Homo sapiens: one gene and its partners. The protein of the gene in region 1 interacts with the protein of each later gene in a pairwise test. Each region holds a gene or a part of one and is shown on either strand. Other genes may lie near its edges.

Region 1 (3,744 bases):
AAGAGAATCACTTGAACCCAGGAGGCAGAGGTTGCAGTGAGCCAAGGTCACACCACTGCATTCCAGCCTGGGCGACAGAGCGAGACTCCATCTCAAAAAAAAAAAAAAAAAAAATCAATAAAACTATTTAACACAGAATTCCTAAATTGTCAATCATTCACTTAACATTTATATAAAATGTAAGAGGTTTTCTTGCCGGGCACGGTGGTTCACACCTGTAATCCCAGCACTTTGGGAGGCCAAGACAGGTGGATCACCTGAGGTCAGGAGTTCAAGAACACCATGGCCAACATGGTGAAACCCTATCTCTATTAAAAATACAAAAATTAGCTGGGTGTGGTGGCAGGCACCTGTAATCCCAGCTACTTGGGAGGCTGAGGCAGGAGAATCACTTAAACCCAGGAAGCACAAGGTTGCAGTGAGCCGAGATCGTGCCATTGCACTCCAGCCTGGGTGACAAGAACGAAACTCTGTCTCAAAAAAGAAAAAAAAAAAAAGAGGTTTTCTCTGCTTCTAAAAGGTGTTTCCCTGTAGTACTTTATTTTTTAATCCTTTTGATTATTTCAAATTTATTACATATAAATATAAAATTCTATTTACTAATATTTGGAATACATTCAAGTTAATTGAAACAAGACAATCATTTTTAGACCATAATGTAGTGTTCAATAAACGGGTTCTAGAGCCAGTCTACCTGAGTTCAAATCTGAGCTATACCACTAATAAATGTAAACGTCCCAAAAATGTTGGCTACTGTTGTTCTTAATAGACTCCGACTGCAATAGCATGGGATAGAAGACATTCTCTCTTAAAAAATATTATTCCTTTGGGAGGCCGAGGTGGGCGGATCACCTGAGGTCAGGAGTTTGAGACCAGCCTGGCCAATATGGCGAAACCCCATCTCTACTAAAAGTACAAAAATTTGCTGGGTGTGGTGGCACACGCCTGTAATCCCAGCTATTCGGGAGGCTGAAGCAGGAGAATCGTTTGAACCCGGGAGGTGGAAGATGCAGTGAGCTGCTATTGCGCCACTGCACTCCAGCCTGGGTAACACAGCAAGACTTCTCAAAAAAAAAAAAAAAGTTATTCTTCTTTAGGCACCACCAGTACCACACACTCAAAACACATTCCTCTAAAACAGAAAACCTCTCTTGCATGAAAAAATATTTAAAACCTAAGTGTATTAATATGCAGACAGTAAAAAGTGATTTTGAAACCCTGCAAACAAACATGAAATCCTTATATTAGGTAAAAAGTAGAATATATGTTCTATGATTACAAATATTTTAAATTTTAAAACTATGAATGGAATAAAAAGACTTGAAAGGAATACAGCAAAATAATACAAAAGCTATTTTAGGATGGACTAATTTTTCTTTTTTCTCAGTATTTTTAAACCAGTATTTACTCTAAAATGACTTTTTAAATGCTCAAGTTTGATATAATAAAGGTTTTACTTTTTTTACGTTACACCATTATACTACACTGGACAATATTATAATACCATTTCTTGTCAAAATGATCAGTGTGCTTTAAACACTACAGATGCAGCATTAAAATAAAAACTAAACATTTCTAAAAATATTTTTATGGTGATATTGTTTCACTGTTAAGAAATGACAAAATGATTTCAATCTGTAATTTTTTTAATATAAATTTTTCCAGCCAGAATTTGGAATATATACATTTTTTTTTACACATTCAAACTATAAATCAACCAGCTCAGACACTTGAGAACTTTTCCCTAGTCCAAATCTTATGGCATATTAATCTGTAAAAAAGAAAAATGTCCAAAGACTACAAATATAATTAACAAAAATTCTAAGGATTATCTGTATCCTCTTAATATATATTTCATAAAACAAATGAGTCCTGTTGTCATTGTCATAGAAATTCCTATAGTGATGGCATTAGCCATGACAGCACCTCAAGATGGTAGGGCATTGGTTCTAACAGGATTCTGCTCCTAGCAAACTAACACAGGAACAAATGCATTCTTAATTCACTTATAGACAACTTTTCATAATACCATTAAAGCAAAATATAGGAAGAATTACATGTTGTTTTATTTTCCCCAATCACTGAAGCTTTAAGCTTTAAATGTTGTTTTATTTTAAAGCTCCAGAAATATTTCACATTAGTTCATTACTCTATCTCCAATGTCTAGCATATAAATGCCTGGCATATAATAAAGGCACACAATTAATAATTGTAGAACCAATGAGTGACACTCAAAAGTGAGAAATCAGAAGTGACAAAATCCTAGGCTTTTTTAAGTCTAATGTGAATTACATTAAACCACCAATAACTGTAAACTATTGGCAGTGTCTGTCACTCTCATTCTAATCTCACTTTCCCTCTCTACCATCCCCTTGGTAGGAAAAAATGAGGTGCTTAGAAGCAGAGCGAGTTGGAACAAGGGATACTGTCTTTTCATGTTGCTGAGTTTTGAAAACATTACTGCTTTGAACAATAAAATTATGCCAGATTACAAAACAGCTATTAATACAGGGATGATATTTTCTCATGCTTACCGATGATTTTACTTTTGTGGTATCAACTCTCTCATAAAATGGAGTGCAATACACAATCAGTATAAGGAGACTCAGAAGAAAGGCACTGCAGCTTACAAACTCAAAAAAATAAAGTCCTCCACATAAAGTACATTGTGATACAACTTCTTCACAGATGAAGGCCAGCAGAGACAGCAACTACAAATGAAGCAAAACATTTTACTTAAGTGTTTTTTCAGAGAATCTACAGTATTTAGAAAGCTGTTTCTGAATAATACGTTTACTCAAATATTTACAATGAGGAGACTATGGCAAACAAGATTAATGAATAAACCTTATCTACACAGAACTTACAGTTTGGCCGCCTTGAAGGAAATACAGGTAAATAAAGAATTAATTAACCTATCGTGTACTAATGCCAGCAAAGGGGAAATATATAATATTGTTATAAAAGCACACAGGAGAGACGCTCAACTGCGGGGTCAGGAAAGGCTTCCTGAAGGAGAAAGCTGAGACCTGAAGAACAGAGTCAGTTTGGGGGATGAAAGATTAAGGAAAGAAATTCCCAGCAGAGAAGCAGTATATAGAAAGGCCAGAAATGAGGGAGCATGGCACCTGCCCTCTGACCCAACATACAGACAACACACACCCCGACCTCCAACTTAACTGTCAAAGTGAGTCAAATCAACATGGCTTAAGTATAGAGTTTAAGGGAAGAGAATGGCAGCACAAAAATTAGTATATGAGGCTAGAGAGGTAAGCTGAGGCCAGATCTAAATGTCCTCGTTAATTAAGAGTCTGGATTTTAAAGTAAAGGTTGACAATGATCAGGTGTATGCTTTCAGTAGTTCTCACTGGCTACAATATGGAGAAGGGACCAGAGGTAAGGCAAACCTTGGGGCGGACATCCAACTGGGAAGCTGATGTAGGAAATCAGGGCAAATAATAGCGACTAGGGAGCAGCAATAGAGAAGAGTGGCAATCACTGAGAGATGCAGCAGAAGCTCTTATCAGACAAGATGCAAAAGCTCATATCAGACAAGATGCATACAAATAATATGGAACACAAGATAACACATGTGTACCTTAAACATTTTAACTTAAAAACGCACATTTATTAACAATCTGCTGAAGTGAGTATTTTCTTTATGGGTCTACTGACGAATTCCACATGTTTTCTGCATTAATCACTTTCATCATCTATGGACTACTACTTCCAGACTGATGTTAT
Region 2 (3,283 bases), on another chromosome or scaffold:
CTTGTACTTAAGAACACACATTGAAGTATCATGGAATAATGGGGTATCAGGTCAATGTAATCACAACCTCAAATAGCCCAGAAGCCTAGAAACATTAATGATTAATTTGAAGTGTTATGAAAGTTCTGTGTACCATTTCTGCAACTTTTATGTAAATTAGAAATTGTATCAAACTATCACTCTTCTGCTTGAAATCTAATAGAACATATGCCCAGACTTGTATGTAAATTTTCATAGCCACTTTCTTAATAGCCTCAAATTGGAGAACGCAAATGCCCATTCATTGGTGGAACTGCTGATATAGGCAACAGCAGATACATTTCCAAAGCATTCCAGACAGGGCGAAACTGTTGGGACAGAAAGCAGATCAGTAGTTGACTACGGCCAAGGGTAGAGGGGAATAGATTGACTGCAAAGGCGTACAAGGGAAATTTTGGGGGTGATGGAATGCTCTGTACTGATTATTACATGACTATATACAATTGCCCAAACTCATCAAATGGAACACTAACATGGGTGAACTTTATTGTACGTAAATTCTAACCCACTTTAAAAAAATTCTCTAAAATAGTCCCCCATTTCACTCAGAGTATAAGCAAATCCTGAAGAAGACCTACACGACCCCTCTTACTATTCACCCCCCTCATTCTCACCCCAGGTGAGCCACCCTGGCTTTTCTGCTCCAATACAGCCACTCAAAGCATGGCCAGGACTGGGCATGGGATCAGTCTGTGAATTATTTTCAGTTCTTAGACAAGTACGGTATCCGAGAGTAAGCAGTTAGAAAATTTATCAGCAATTGACATCACTGTAATATACAAGAACATGGCCCATTTTCTAGTAATTCACTGTTAATATATTTTACAAAAGTACAGGAGCTTGACTACTGGGATTAAAAAAGTTATTCAGAAGAGTCAGACTAACTGTGACAAAGTTATAGGAAACATTTTTTTCCTCTTTATGTATGCATAAGAGTGATGTGATACTGTCTACGTAAGTCTAAAAGTCTTTCCATAAGTAGACAATAAAAATTCCAAGTGATAAAGGTTTTGTTCAAGGAATACTAAAACAGGAACACCAGAAAAATAAGTACTGTTTTCTTTTTTGTTGTTGTTACTATTAATATGTACCATACTTGTAAAAACAAATTGTCCACTTCTGGAGATACCCATGGTTTACTCAGCAGAGGACTGAATCAATAGCCTTAAACATAAATCAAAAGCTAAAGAAAATGGGCTTTGGAAATATTTGAACATTGGTGTTTAAGAATTACAAAGAAGTAGCAAGCTTAGCACTGGCAACTCTTTATTAATCAGTCTATTTGTCTTAAGGGGGAAAAGAGACTATAGATCAAAAAATTTTTACCCTGGAGGTCTTTCAATAAAGAGATTGCATATTAACCTTAGAACAGTCCTGCCTCATGAAGGAAACAGCATTAAATGCAAAGTGTGAAGATAGCATTCCCTTTCTGTTTTCTCAGTAAACAGTAAGAACAGCCTTTATTTAATACTGAATGAAGAAAACTTGTGGAATCCCTACTAGCAGCAAAATAATATATTCATTTCTTAAAAGGATACAAAGATCAAATTTAGATCCTGCCTGGGTCTCATTTTCTTCTAATACCCAGAACAATCATTGTTACCATTAATACAACAGTCATCTACTAGCTTCTGTGATCTAATTTTACTTAACTTTTATTGAATGGTTCAATGATGTTGTATAATTAGCTCCTCCAAAGTAACACTAGAAAAGCATCCTATTACACAAGTTTATAAACCTTAAGTGTGTTCTAGACTAGAAGTCATTTGATGATAGGGAGATGGGTCAATCAAGAAAGCATTATATACACAGAATACAAATAAAAGTTTATTGTACAAAATTAAGGCCTTCGTATTTCATAGTTCACCAAGGCTAAAGAAACACTGGATAATTTAAGTCCTTCACAAAAATTTCACTTTTACTCCTCCTCATCTCTAACTATTAAAATGACCCAGCCAAATGTTATCAAAACAAACACTGTAAATAACACCAAGTCTTTTAAAGACGACTATCCCAAATGTTATTTCTTGGCATAGGTGATCTTCATAGCATGGGACGGTGTGATCTTAAATCCCTGTAAAGCATCCCTGGCAGCTCCAGCCTGCCCATCATTTTCAAATTCAACAAAAGCAATGTCATGCCTCCCTGGTACCAGACGTACTTCCTTGAAGCCAGGGAACCTATAAAGAAGAAAAACAATTCATGTATACAGCAAGTACATAAATGTTTGCTTTGTGTTAAAATTTGTTAAGCAACTTCCTAATACTAGTCCAAGAAAAATAACCATACTCTAACCAAGAATACTGAGTAGACGGAAGAGCCTCATGTGTAATTAATACCATGGAAGAACTGCAAGAATAAACTAATTCTATTTTATATTATATCAAAGCTTTGTTATTACATCAATCAGAGTTAAGAATTCAAACATTAGAGGAAATTTAGCTTTGTATTTGCTAAATCGGCAAATTGGCTCCAATTCATGATTCATCCCAAACCAAATCAATGAACCTGTAAGGAATTACTGCTGTGTGATAAATGGATTCAACCCACGGAAGTACTACTTGTCCTGTGAGGAAGCTCTCAGAAACAGACTTATTTATGAAAAAACTTACTGATTAAACAGCATGGATAACATCATCTCATTAGTCTCTTCTGGTAAGTTATTAAGGAATAAAATATAGTTTGGAGGGTAATCAGGGACCTATTAAAAAGTAAAAAGGCAAAGTTAGCTTGTAAGTTTAAACAGCATCGTAAGCTAGGCATGTGAAATCTTACTATATCAAACAATAAAGCTGAAAAACAATGACACTGGAGAAATAAATCAAAACCTTACAGTAACTAAGCAAGGCAGACATTCAAGTAAAGACACTGAAAGTCTGGAAAATTACAAATCTCTTAAGTGTTTAACAGTATATGAAACAATTATGTTTTAAGCTTCTGGAGGTGAGTCGTGATTGGAGAATTTTGTCACCTGGATAACATAATCAAAGATCTTAATAAAATTAGAGATGGCCAGCAATGTCACCCCTCCGTAGCTGGTTACCACACTCAGTATCACTCAGATACTCAATTCCTCTGTACTGTTACTACTTCCCAGCATACTAAAAAAAAAAAAAAAAATTGGAACTAGAAAGATTACCACCGAGAACCACTGCTTAGGGACTTTTAATTTACTTATTTTTGGCAAATAAATGAGATATACACAGCATCTAGTTACATACAAACAAGCAGTAACAAACACTTA
Region 3 (3,744 bases), on another chromosome or scaffold:
ATTAATTTACACATTAAACATACTTAAATACATTAAAACATTATCTATATTTTTAAATATTTCAACAGAAAAGAGAAAGCAAATAGGAAAAATATAATTGTTTAATCTGGTTGATAGGTGTATGGATGTTCATTACACACTTTTCTGCTTTTCTATATGCTTGAAAATGTTTATAATAACATTTTTGAAGGCATATACTGTCTTTAAGAAAAAGGGGCAGTAGACTATTTCTTCCTACCTAAGTAAATGACAAATTATTTCCCTGGACCCAGCTTTACTGAAAAGAAAGGGAGCCTGAAAAACTTTATAGCAAAAACGGTAGCTCTCGTTATGGATGGTCTAGAATTGTTCAACTTTCTTACTCAGTTTGACTAGAAAGCAAGTTTTAGTTGATTAAAAATCAGCTTTGAGTAAAACAATATAATTCTTTCAAAGACCTCACAAATCCCTAAATATTTATTCATTTGGATCATTTTCACCAGGTTGAAGAGAAGCACAGGTCTGATGCCATTTATTCTTTAGAAGATGAGACTAAAACATAGATTCTAGCATAGGTCACAACAGGGAGGGCACTGTAAATTAGAACAGTAACTTAATCCCAGGGGCTGCCATGCCTCTGATCGGTTTCTTCCCAACCTGACACAGCATTACTAAAATGGCAAGTTAGCAGCCGCTCTACTTGACAGACAGCACCAAAAATGGAGAGTATGGCATGGAGACAGGGGGACAAGGATCTTGGACAGGGAGGGTAGCAACCAGTGTTTACAAACATAAACCAGAGCATCAGATGGGCCAGCCATAAATTACCCAAGATTGTACTGAAATCTCTGAAAATAAACTAACAAGCCTTTAGAAGTTTCCTCCTTATGTTCTAACTATGCCCCCCTCCCACCAACTTCCCTGCAAAAATTACTCCTTCCGAAATGGTACCACTACCACTCTTGCTGAAACACAATCTTATCACCAAGGGAGGGGATTACTCAAATAAATCTGAGAGGAGAAGCCAGACCAGAATGGTCTGCTTGACCCACTCAAGAATCTGAGAGAAGTCTGCTGGTCATGCCTTTGGGGAATGCCCACCCCGTCTTTCACCACAGTGGTGCTATGGTATTAATCTCTGGTTTACCAAGTTGAAAGGATAACGAAGGGCATTCTAATATTGACCCATTCCTTTCCCTTCTTTTCCATCTTGGTCCCAATTTTAGGCCATTCTCCCAAAAGATACCAAAATGATAATGATAATTATAAAGTAGAATATAGACCCCTTCACTCCTGAACTACATATTTTCAATGAAATTCCCAGATATTTGAAGAAAAGGCCCCCAAAACTACAAATAATCTAACCTCTACCACCAGAGCATCTTCCAAGTCGACTGCCGCGGTGTCTCACCAACTCGAAAATGACGAGGCCTCGCAGTGGCTGCCCAGGGCGCCCAGTGGTGAGGTCAGCAGTGTGTCCTGCCCCGCCCCATTGAGGCAATCTTACTCTGACACTGAGGAAGAAGTCTAGGCTGTCCAGAATCTCAGCTGCATCCACAGGAAAGGGAGAGAGGATCCTCACTTTCACAAGTAGCACCCAGGAGATTCATTTCTCAATGACTGATGGGTCACCCCTATCCACAACTCCACCCACTGCAAAATAGAGAGTAGGGTCTGCAACTCCTTGTAATCATCCCCATGATTAGGAGGTCTAGGATCATCTTGATCCGTGTTGTTTCCTCTCTTCAGATCATGAAGACACAAAAGACTTGCTTTTTATCATGAACACCTGCTCTGCGTGAGAAAAGAGGAGATCATCATGATCATTGGCTATCCTCCTCTTTGCTCCCCAAGACAAACTATTACAAATGGGAAATTCCTCGGTAGGATTTTCTCATTTGTAAGAGGCTAGACACATCAAGATTATGGTAAGACAATAGCAGGGTAAATATCCTGGGAATCACTCAAAGTCAACCATACAAGAATACAGAAACAATAAAATACAGAGCTATATGGAGGAAATCTGAACATATTTGTGACCTCAAGAAAACCCACCACAACCACCACGACCAGGAAATGTCTAGAAGCTTCTGGAACTCTCTACATACAATTCTTTCATGTTCTCCTTCCCAGCAAAGCCCACCAGCCCTAAGGAGAGATGTGCCTTTGTGGTAGTGTAGCCCCATGAGGGCAAGTTTGAGGAGAGCGGAGGGTGGGAAGAGGAGATTGTGTCAGTGGAATTCAGAACTATAATTCCCAGAACACTGCTTAACAAAAGGCAGAATGCCCCACTGGGAAGACAAGAAGGAGAATGGCAAAGCTGTCCCATAGAGACAAAATAACTAACTTGCTCACCCACATGTCCTATTGCAATTTAAATATGCAATGTGTTCAAACTCAGCAACACCTTTGGTCAACACACTTTAGGAGACTGGTTGGAGATGTGACCCAGAAACTGCGTACCTTGGCTCAGAACACAAGAGGAGAGAAGAGAGAAGACGACTATCTCTCACTACCACCACCAGGTAAAAGATGCCGAATGAGAGTGATGTACAGTGCCCCAAAAGTCAGTATCTGAGGGCAAAGAGGTGCAACTAGGCTGGGCACAGGATGCAGGCTACTTGGAAAGGTTAGGCAACACGGTATGGAAGGTGCTCCGAGAAGAGTGGTGAATAATTCCTTCTGCCAGAGCTCAGTTCTGCTAATCTCAGTTATTCTGCATTCAGTATACTGGGGCAAGTGACCCATTACTCCATCTTGGGAGGAGCCATGATGCCAACCGTTGTCAGGTGAGGCCAGAAAAAACAATGGGTTGGGGAGTGTTTCATAAAAACGTCTCTGTTCCCTTGGAGCCTTGGCAGAGGAATGGATGTAATTGGTGAACTTATACTTTATATGGGGCCTTAGAATAAGAAGCTCTGCCCTTCTTCAAGGTCACTTTATAAACCACATAAAAGTCAAGCTGGTCAGAAAGGTGAGAAAGAGAAAGAATTTCCCACAGTAAGAACTGGTACCTGTAGGTTTACTTGTAGTTCACCATAGTTGCTCCTTCCTCTGTTCCATCAACATTGGTTAAGTCTGAGAGACAATAACTTTCCAACTAGTGATTGATTGGAATAGAGCTAGCAGACCAGGCATGACTTGAGATACCATCTGGTGTGTATAAAGCCCCTTTTTAGAAAGATGAGAAAACAGTCCCAGAGAGGTGAAATGACTTGCACAATGCAAATTAGAACCCAAATGAAGGGTAGAACCCAGATCTTCTGGCTTCCAGTTCAGTGCTGCTGGGTTTTTCTTACTAAACCAAAACAATAAAGAGCATAGAAGGGAAGAGAAGAATAAAGTCTATTTTGGTCTTTGGTAGCCAGGGTAAGGAGAATGCTGTCACTCTACGAGAAAACCCAAAGTGAACCCGGCTAATCAGGACCGTGCTTGGGAAGGGAGCAGGGGCATTACCTTTCAACACCAGAGGTTCTTTGCCTTCTCTCTTCAGGGACTCGAGGACTATGTGAAGTGGCTGGGAGGGCATCACTCGGCTTGGTTCATTGGTATTCTCATCATAAACTATAATTTCTTTGGAAAAGATCCTCTTGAAAGAGTCCTTGCCTTCCCTACAGGAAATCAAGTCTAGGACAGTGATCTTGCCCTGCTGCAGTCTCCGCCGGCTGATCTTATCGGCACAGTTAATGTGGACAGCTCCTTGGATGTGACTCTTGTTGTACTCCATGAAGGGCCTGCAGTCAATGATGACAGGGCCCTGACTCG
Region 4 (3,744 bases), on another chromosome or scaffold:
AGAAAGGCTCTTATTTAGGATATAGACATAGTGAAGTCTCATGCCAAGTTTGTGTGTGTGTCTATCTATGTACACATATATTTATATATTTTAAAGACTATTTTTATTAACTATTTCTGAATAATTTATCCACATTATTCAAAATTCAAAAAGCATATAAGTATACAGTGAAAAATTTCCTCCCATGTCAGTCCCTACCTCCAAAAGCAATCAATGTTATTTGGTTTTGTGTAGTCTTCCAAAGATGTTTTATGCATATAAAAAAAAGTGTGTGTGTGTGTGTGTGTGTGTATACTTTTTCACTTTTTTACACAAAAAATGGGCATGCTTAGGCGTGGTGGTGCGTGCCTGTAATCCCAGCTACTTGAGAGGCTGATGCAGGAGAATCGCTTGAACCCGGGAGGCGGAGGTTGCAGTGAGCTAAGATCACGCCATTGCACTCCAGCCTGGGCAACAGTGCGAGACTCTGTCTCAGAAAAAAAAAAAGGTCGGGGGGAGCATGCTGGACATACTACTGTGTACTTTGTTCTTTCCACTTATATCTCAAAGACCTTTCCATAACTGCACATGAAAAGCTTCTTCATTCTTTTCTACAGCTGATTAGTATTTCATTGGGTGAATATTCCATAATGTATTACCATTACAAACAATGCCATAATAACCTTGTATCTATGTCATTAAACAGGAGAATAAATAAATCTATAATTCCTGGAAAGAATGAGTCAAAGGGGCATATATTGTAATTCTGATGGATATTGACAAGTTGCCCTCCACAGAATCTGTACCAATTTACAATCTCATTAGCAAAGCATGAGAGTGTCTGCTTCTGCACACCGACCAACAAAGTGAGTTAGCAAACTACCAAGTGTAGTTAGGATTTCCAATTCCCTTATTATGATTTAGGTTGAGCATTTTTCACATGGTAAGCACCACTTCTCATAGCATTTTAACAACTTAATGTATACTGGAAAAAAATATGCTTTTGATTTTTTTTCTTTCCATCCCATAAGGAGTTGAGCTTTTGATTTTTAACTTTAAAGGAATGCCCTAAATTATTTTTAATTTTAAAGAATGCCCTAAATTACATAAGAACTACTGGTAAAACAACTTATAATTGGATTCAGAGAGGCAGGAAGTAAGAAAAGGAGAAAGAAAAACATAACTTTATTTCCAGAAGTATAAAGTGTGGGAGATGCAGCGCTGTTTCAGTGAGAGAGAATTATGAGCACAGCCTTTTAGGTTTCCTGAAGTTCTTCAGTGAAATTTAAGCCACTATGCAGAAGAAAAAGCCAATTTTCCTATAGTATAGCTTTTATTATATTAGCCAAATATAAGCCAATTCTGAAAGTATTCCTAGAAGAGATCAGAGAAATCAGGCCAGACTTTGCAAATTTAGATGGTATGTGGGGAAATGTTTTTTATTTTTAAAAATATGTATTCTAGTATATATTAAGAAAAATGGATATATCAAACTAGTAATATCGTAGGTATTATTTAGAATGAAACTTTTAAGTGTCAATCAAAATGTCAATTAAATGTCAATGTCAAGAAAAAATAGTAAATAACTAATACTGTAACGGTATTCTCCAGTGTGGCAAAGTCATTACCATGGTTCCTCAGTGGCCGAAATCTCGGAAACAATGAACGGAGGAGGAAAAATGGAAGCTTAACAATAACTTAATTTATCATTGATGGCCACTAAAGCAAAGGTGAGAGAGAAAAAAGGAACTTCCTTAAAATAACTTATTTTATATTTGACAACTTTTTAAATGTGCATTTTCTTTCTACATTACCAAAGGGTCTGGTTTCAGACATTCTGATCATGCTAGGGATTCAAACTTACTGTGTACTTCGTACTTTCCCTACAAGGAGAACCAAAAAGCAGGTTTTTTTCAAAAGCATTTGAATATCAGGTCAGGGTTCTTTAGAACAGGCCTCAGAGGATTTCCCCCTCAGTAAACAGGCTGCAAAGAGATAATTAGCCTGTCATTTTAGATTCCAGTGCAGAAGAACTAAAAGCAGGCTATGTGGTTACAGACTCAAGAGGCTTAAACGAAAACAAATTAAGTGAGTTTATGTTCCAACCAAATCTAGTGACCATGTGATCCAATTTCTCTTCAGCCCTTGAGTGGGACATGCTCCTGAGAGGTCACTCAGATTGTGCACCTTTGGTTATACTGTTTAGACTGAATCACGACATGAATAATCAACTATCTGACTAATCGACTATCTGGACACTAAAAACACAACCACTGTAAGAAAAAGAAAGCCACAGGCAGACAAAATGTTAACATTTTGACATAAAACCACAATAGAAAACTAAAAAACATCAAGGCTGTTTGTCATTGACTCCCTATTATTCTTACCATTCAACATGGTAGCCACCAAATTTTGAATTTTAATTCATGCACATTGAAATAGCCACAGATATTATATATATATATATATATATATATATATATATATATATATATATATTTTTTTTTTTTTTTTTTTTTTTTTTTTTTTGAGACAGCGTCTCCCTCTGTCGCCCAGGCTGGAGTGCAGTGGTGCAATCTCGGCTCACTGCAACCTCTGCCTCCTGGGTTCAAGTGATTCTCCTGCCTCAGCCTCCTGAGTAGCTGGGACAGATATGAAATATTTTCATCACTGCAAAAAGACTTATTGTAATATTCTAACTTCTACCTTAGAACCATGAACAAGTTTACCTGACCTGTTTCCATCCTCAACATCTAAATGTATTGATAGCTCTGGGGGACATACACACCAAACTAAGTTCTACTGCTGACTTCAGGATCACAATAGAGTTTTATTTTCCTTTAAACTTAAAAAAAAAACAAAAACAAAAACAAAAAAACCTGCCTTTAAGTGATGCAACAAGTATGCCTCAGATAGTTTCATAATTAAAGAATGATTTATCTCTCCTCTGGGGAACTGAAGAACCCAGGTGCCTCAAATAAAAGACTATTAAAAACAATTACAATGCATAAAACAATAAGAACACCATGACCACTGGAGAGCTTAGTTCATAAGAACATAAATCCTTTCCTTCCTTTTCACCAAAACCTCAGCTAACAAACATGAAGACACTCAATAGGTATTCTCTGCAGAGAACACTTTTAAAAAACAAGTTATGGTTATTCTGGATAATGACACATTCCTGCTTTGAAGGAATAAGATACACCAAAAAACCAAAACCCTTAACTCAACAATACCTGATATGGCTTGGATGTTTGTTCCCTCCAAATCTCACGCTGAAATGTGATTTCCAATGTTAGAGGTGAGGTCTGGTGGGAGGTGACTGGATCGTGGAGATGAATCCCTCATGAATGATTTGGCATCATCCTCTTGATGATAAGTGAGTTCTCACTCAGTTAGTTCACCTGAGATATGGTTGTTTAAAAGAGTCTGGGACCTCCTCCCGTCTCTCTCTCTCTCACTCCCAACTCTCGCCATGTGACATACCTGCTCCCCCTTTCAGTATGATTCTAAGCTTCTTGAGGCCCTCACCAGAAACAGATACCAACACCACACTTCCTGTACACCCTGCAATACCATGAGCCAATTAAAACTCTTTTCTTATAAATTACTCAGTCTCAGGTATTCCAAATGGACTAACAGAACACCTGAATATCCAATTCCATTTCTTACTGCTGTTTTCTCTCTGAAAGGGTGAGAGAAATCTCATTAAATTTCATTCTTTCTTAGAGCTCTATTGCTTACTCATTGTATCATTTTCTAGAG
Region 5 (3,744 bases), on another chromosome or scaffold:
GCATATGTCACCGTGCCTGGCTAATTTTTTATATTTTCAGTAGAGACGGGGTTTCACCATATTGGCCAGGCTGGTCTTGAACTCCTGACCTCATGATCCACCCGCCTCGGCCTCCCGAAGTGCCGGGATTCCAGGCATGAGCCACTGCGCTGGGCCCCCTCCCCAGTTTAAAAGCGCTCTGTGGCCCCCGACAGCCTCTGAATGTCACCTAGCCTCTGTCAACCAGGCCACTGCCTACCCGGCCCTGTCCTGCTCCACCACTCCCTGTGCTCAGGTACGCAGCACATCTGTGCCACGCCACTCCCTGTGCCCCAGGCACACGGTACATCTGTGCTATGACACTCCCACCTTTTACCCTTGCTTCTCCTCGACCTGCCCCTCACTGAGGTCACTGAGGGACCTGCTCAGGGGGCTTCCTTGACTGCCTTCTCTCTAAGGAAGTGTCCCCATCTAGAACCCATCAAGCTATCCCACTGGCTTCCTTCCTAAAACCCACTGCCCACTCCTCAGCCCCAGCAGCTCCTTTGTGCACTCCTGGATCACTTACTTTGGTGGGGGACACACACACTCCAGTGACCACAAGGATGCCTGTGTTGGTCACTGCTGGGCCCCAAGGGTTGGGAGCAGCACGGGATGCACACTAGGGCCCCAGGTCCCCACCAGTAATTTTTTTTTTTTTTTGAGTTTTGCTCTGTCACCCAGGCTGGAGTACAATGGCATGATCTTGGCTCACTGCAACCTCTGCGATTCTCCTGCCTCAGCCTCCCGAGTAGCTGGGATTACAAGCATGTGCCATCATGCCTGGCTAACTTTTGTATTTTTAGTAGACGGGGTTTTGCCATGTTGGTCAGGCTGGTCTTGAACTCCTGACCTCAAGTGATGTATCTGCCTCAGCCTCCCAAAGTGCTGGGATTACAGACGTGAGCCACCGCGCCCGGCCCCCCACCAGTTCTTGAACACATGAATACATGATTCTAGACATTTCATCTGCCAGACCGTGAGCCCAGTGAGGGCAGGAGTGGGATGGGGTGGATCCTCTGGGGGTTTCCATCCCTAGACAGGACCTGGCATCCTGTGGGTGCTGCTGAGAGAATAACGCGGGTGTGGAGGCCTCACTGGGGCGCCTGTGGCTGTCCCGCTCCCCTGCACCAACCCCACCTGCGGCCCCACCTTGTCGAAACACACCAGCTGCAGCTTGCCCCCCAGGTTGATGCGCAGTGGGTGGATGCAGAAAATGCCCTGTCTCCGCAGTCGGCTCTGGGCGTAGAGCGTGCACACAGTCATGGCAGCAGGCAGGGCAGGTGGCACCACCACGGTCACCAGGTCGAGAGCCCGGATTACAATCTCATTCAGAGGCACCTGGCAGGGGGCACCATGAATGTGAGCACCTGGCTGGTTGGCCCCTGGGCCCTGCTGGCAGCACCCCCCACCCCACCCCCAAGGCTTACCCGGTTTCGGTAGAGGATGAAGATGCTGTAGATGGTGCCGAGGAGAGCTGTGGGGACAGCGAAGGACTGAGTGGGATTTGGGACCCAGGTGGGGGGGGCTATGGGCAGAGGAGGGTGCAGGGGGCCACTCACCCAGGACAGAGAGGGCAGCCACAAACTTCATGCTGTGTTTATAGAACTTGAAGTTGATGGGCCGGGGGTGCAAGATGGAGCTCACCAGGCCCCCTTTTGCCGTGCAGAACCCTGGGGAGGAGGCGGGGACCCCAAGGCAGGGAAGCCAGGGTGAGGGCAGGCCTTCCCCACCCCTAGCCCTCCCGACCCGTGCCTCTGGAGTTGCAAGACATGATGTTTGTGAAATTAGCCATCAGCAGTGTGGAGTCCTAACAGGTCTGGCCCGGCTCTTGTAGGCTTTTTAAGGGCTTTAAACAAGGAACTAGTGGATAGCATCTAAACACTGGGTGGTTCCACTGAAAATCCAGACACAGGGAAGGCTCCTGCCTGCCCGCTACATCCCTGCCCGCTCCAGCACTGTAACCCCGGCGGCTCCTCCAGATCTTGCAATGCTTGGCCTTAGTCTGGCCCAACTTCTGCTAAGATGGGAATGCTCAGACCCCAGATGGGGGGCAACTGGCCCGAGGTCCCACAGCAGGGCAGCAGCAGAGGTGGGCGTGGGGTCCAGGGTTCCAGGTCCCACCCTGCCTCACTCCACCTCTCCCAAGGGTGCTGAGCCCGGGATCTCTCTCAAGCCCAGCCTCCCGGCTCATACCTGTGCGGGTCACCACTGCCAGGACGTGCGGTCCCACATAGGCCCGGGCCTGCAAGATGAGGGTCCCGCAGAAGAGTGTGTGCCGCCGGTGTGTCTCTGCACAGTAGGGCCCCAGCCCCTCCGGCAGTGCCGTCTTCAGCACTGGAATGCTCTCTCCTGGTGGGGAACGTGGTGTGAGGACCACTCCACACCCCTCCCTCCCACCAGCAAACCAGGAGTTCTGTGTAGAATTGTCCCACAAGCTCTAAGTCTCAGTTAACTCTGTAACCAGGTGTGAACAAGAAATCACAGCCCCATTTTACAGAGAGGAACACTGAGGCTCAGAGAGGACGGAGATATAAAGGCACAGGGAGACACTCCTGGAAGCAGGTGGCAGCCAGCTCCCTGGAACCAGCGGGGGGGGGTGGGTCAGACAGAGCATGTGTGGGCATCATGTGTGCAGTGGGGCAGGGTGGGGGAGTCGTTCTCTTTCTGCTGGAATTATTTTATAACATGCATGGAGTGCTTTTCTAACTCCAACCAACAGAAATATTTACAAGGGGCCAGATGCGGTGGCTCACGCCTGTAATCCCAACACTTTGGGAGGCTGAGGTGGGCAGATCACTTGAGGCCAGGAGTTCGGGACCAGGCTGGCCAACATGGTGAAACCCTGTCTCTACTAAAATACAAAAATTAGCCGGGTGTTGTGGTGGGCATCTGTAATCCCAGCTACTTGGGAGGCTAAGGCAGGGTAATAACTTGAACCAGAGAGGCGGAGGTTGCAGTGAGCCGAGATCGTGCCACTGCACTCCAGCCTGGACAACAGAGTGAAACTCTGTCTCAAAAGAGGAGGGGAGGGGAGGGGATGGGGTAAGGAAGGGGAGGGGGAAGGAGGAGGGGGAGGGGAGAGAAATATTTACATGGAGGGGGCAAATATTTCCATGAGTTGGAGTGAGAAAAGCACTGCATGCTCGCCATGGCCCTGTGAAGTCCTGGGCAGGCTGCCTAGCAAACAGTGGCACTCCCTTACTGAATGCCTGCAGGCTGGGACTATTGAGCACCTACTGTGTGCACATTCCTGCAAGGGAGTCAGACAATCCTGCCATGTCTGCCTCACAAGAGATGAGCAGATGAAGTATGTGTGGACAGTTTGTGGAGGGCAGGGCTCAGGGCGTGTGCCCACAAATCATACTGATCACAATTACTACTTTTTTTTTGTTTTCTGAGACGGAGTCTTACTCTGTCACCCAGGCTGGAGTGCAGTGGTGCGATCTCGGCTCACTGCAACCTCCACCTCCTAGGCTCAAACGATCCTCCCACCTCAGCCTCCCAAGTACCTGGGACGATAGACGTGCACCACTACACCTGGCTAATTTTTTGTATTTTTGGTAGAGATGGGGTTTCAACATGATTTCCAGGCTGTTTTCGAACTCCTCACCTCAGGCAATCCACCCACCTCTGCCTGCCAAAGTGTTGGGATTACAGGTGCGAGCCACTGCGCCTGGCCTACGATTTGTGATACAAATACAATGCCAGCCAGAAAACTTCCCT

What was found.
Region 2: the proteins of CMTM6 (region 1) and SNRPB2 interact in binary tests that used the Homo sapiens proteins (3 or more experiments, as listed by UniProt).
Region 3: the proteins of CMTM6 (region 1) and DUSP10 interact in a two-hybrid assay, tested with the Homo sapiens proteins (one large-scale study listed by BioGRID and IntAct).
Region 4: the proteins of CMTM6 (region 1) and TMED8 interact in binary tests that used the Homo sapiens proteins (3 or more experiments, as listed by UniProt).
Region 5: the proteins of CMTM6 (region 1) and ATP13A2 interact in a two-hybrid assay, tested with the Homo sapiens proteins (one large-scale study listed by BioGRID and IntAct).

What each region holds. Positions count from the first base shown.
Region 1 is NC_000003.12:32,489,176-32,492,919, forward strand, and holds part of CMTM6 (CKLF-like MARVEL transmembrane domain-containing protein 6), read right to left. Parts: intron 2,712-3,744; coding exon 2,535-2,711; intron 1-2,534. UniProt on the Homo sapiens protein: Master regulator of recycling and plasma membrane expression of PD-L1/CD274, an immune inhibitory ligand critical for immune tolerance to self and antitumor immunity.
Region 2 is NC_000020.11:16,739,782-16,743,064, reverse strand, and holds the end of SNRPB2 (U2 small nuclear ribonucleoprotein B''), read right to left. Parts: intron 2,741-3,283; coding exon 2,652-2,740; intron 2,220-2,651; coding exon 2,060-2,219; 3' UTR 501-2,059; downstream 1-500. UniProt on the Homo sapiens protein: Involved in pre-mRNA splicing as component of the spliceosome. Associated with sn-RNP U2, where it contributes to the binding of stem loop IV of U2 snRNA.
Region 3 is NC_000001.11:221,735,499-221,739,242, forward strand, and holds part of DUSP10 (dual specificity protein phosphatase 10), read right to left. Parts: coding exon 3,436-3,744; intron 1,769-3,435; coding exon of another isoform or gene 1,725-1,768; exon of another isoform or gene 1,633-1,724; coding exon of another isoform or gene 1,586-1,632; exon of another isoform or gene 1-1,585. UniProt on the Homo sapiens protein: Protein phosphatase involved in the inactivation of MAP kinases. Has a specificity for the MAPK11/MAPK12/MAPK13/MAPK14 subfamily. It preferably dephosphorylates p38.
Region 4 is NC_000014.9:77,370,476-77,374,219, forward strand, and holds part of TMED8 (protein TMED8), read right to left. Parts: intron 3,435-3,744; exon of another isoform or gene 3,216-3,434; intron 1-3,215.
Region 5 is NC_000001.11:16,994,806-16,998,549, forward strand, and holds part of ATP13A2 (polyamine-transporting ATPase 13A2), read right to left. Parts: intron 2,371-3,744; coding exon 2,215-2,370; intron 1,692-2,214; coding exon 1,581-1,691; intron 1,496-1,580; coding exon 1,449-1,495; intron 1,360-1,448; coding exon 1,171-1,359; intron 1-1,170. UniProt on the Homo sapiens protein: ATPase which acts as a lysosomal polyamine exporter with high affinity for spermine. Also stimulates cellular uptake of polyamines and protects against polyamine toxicity.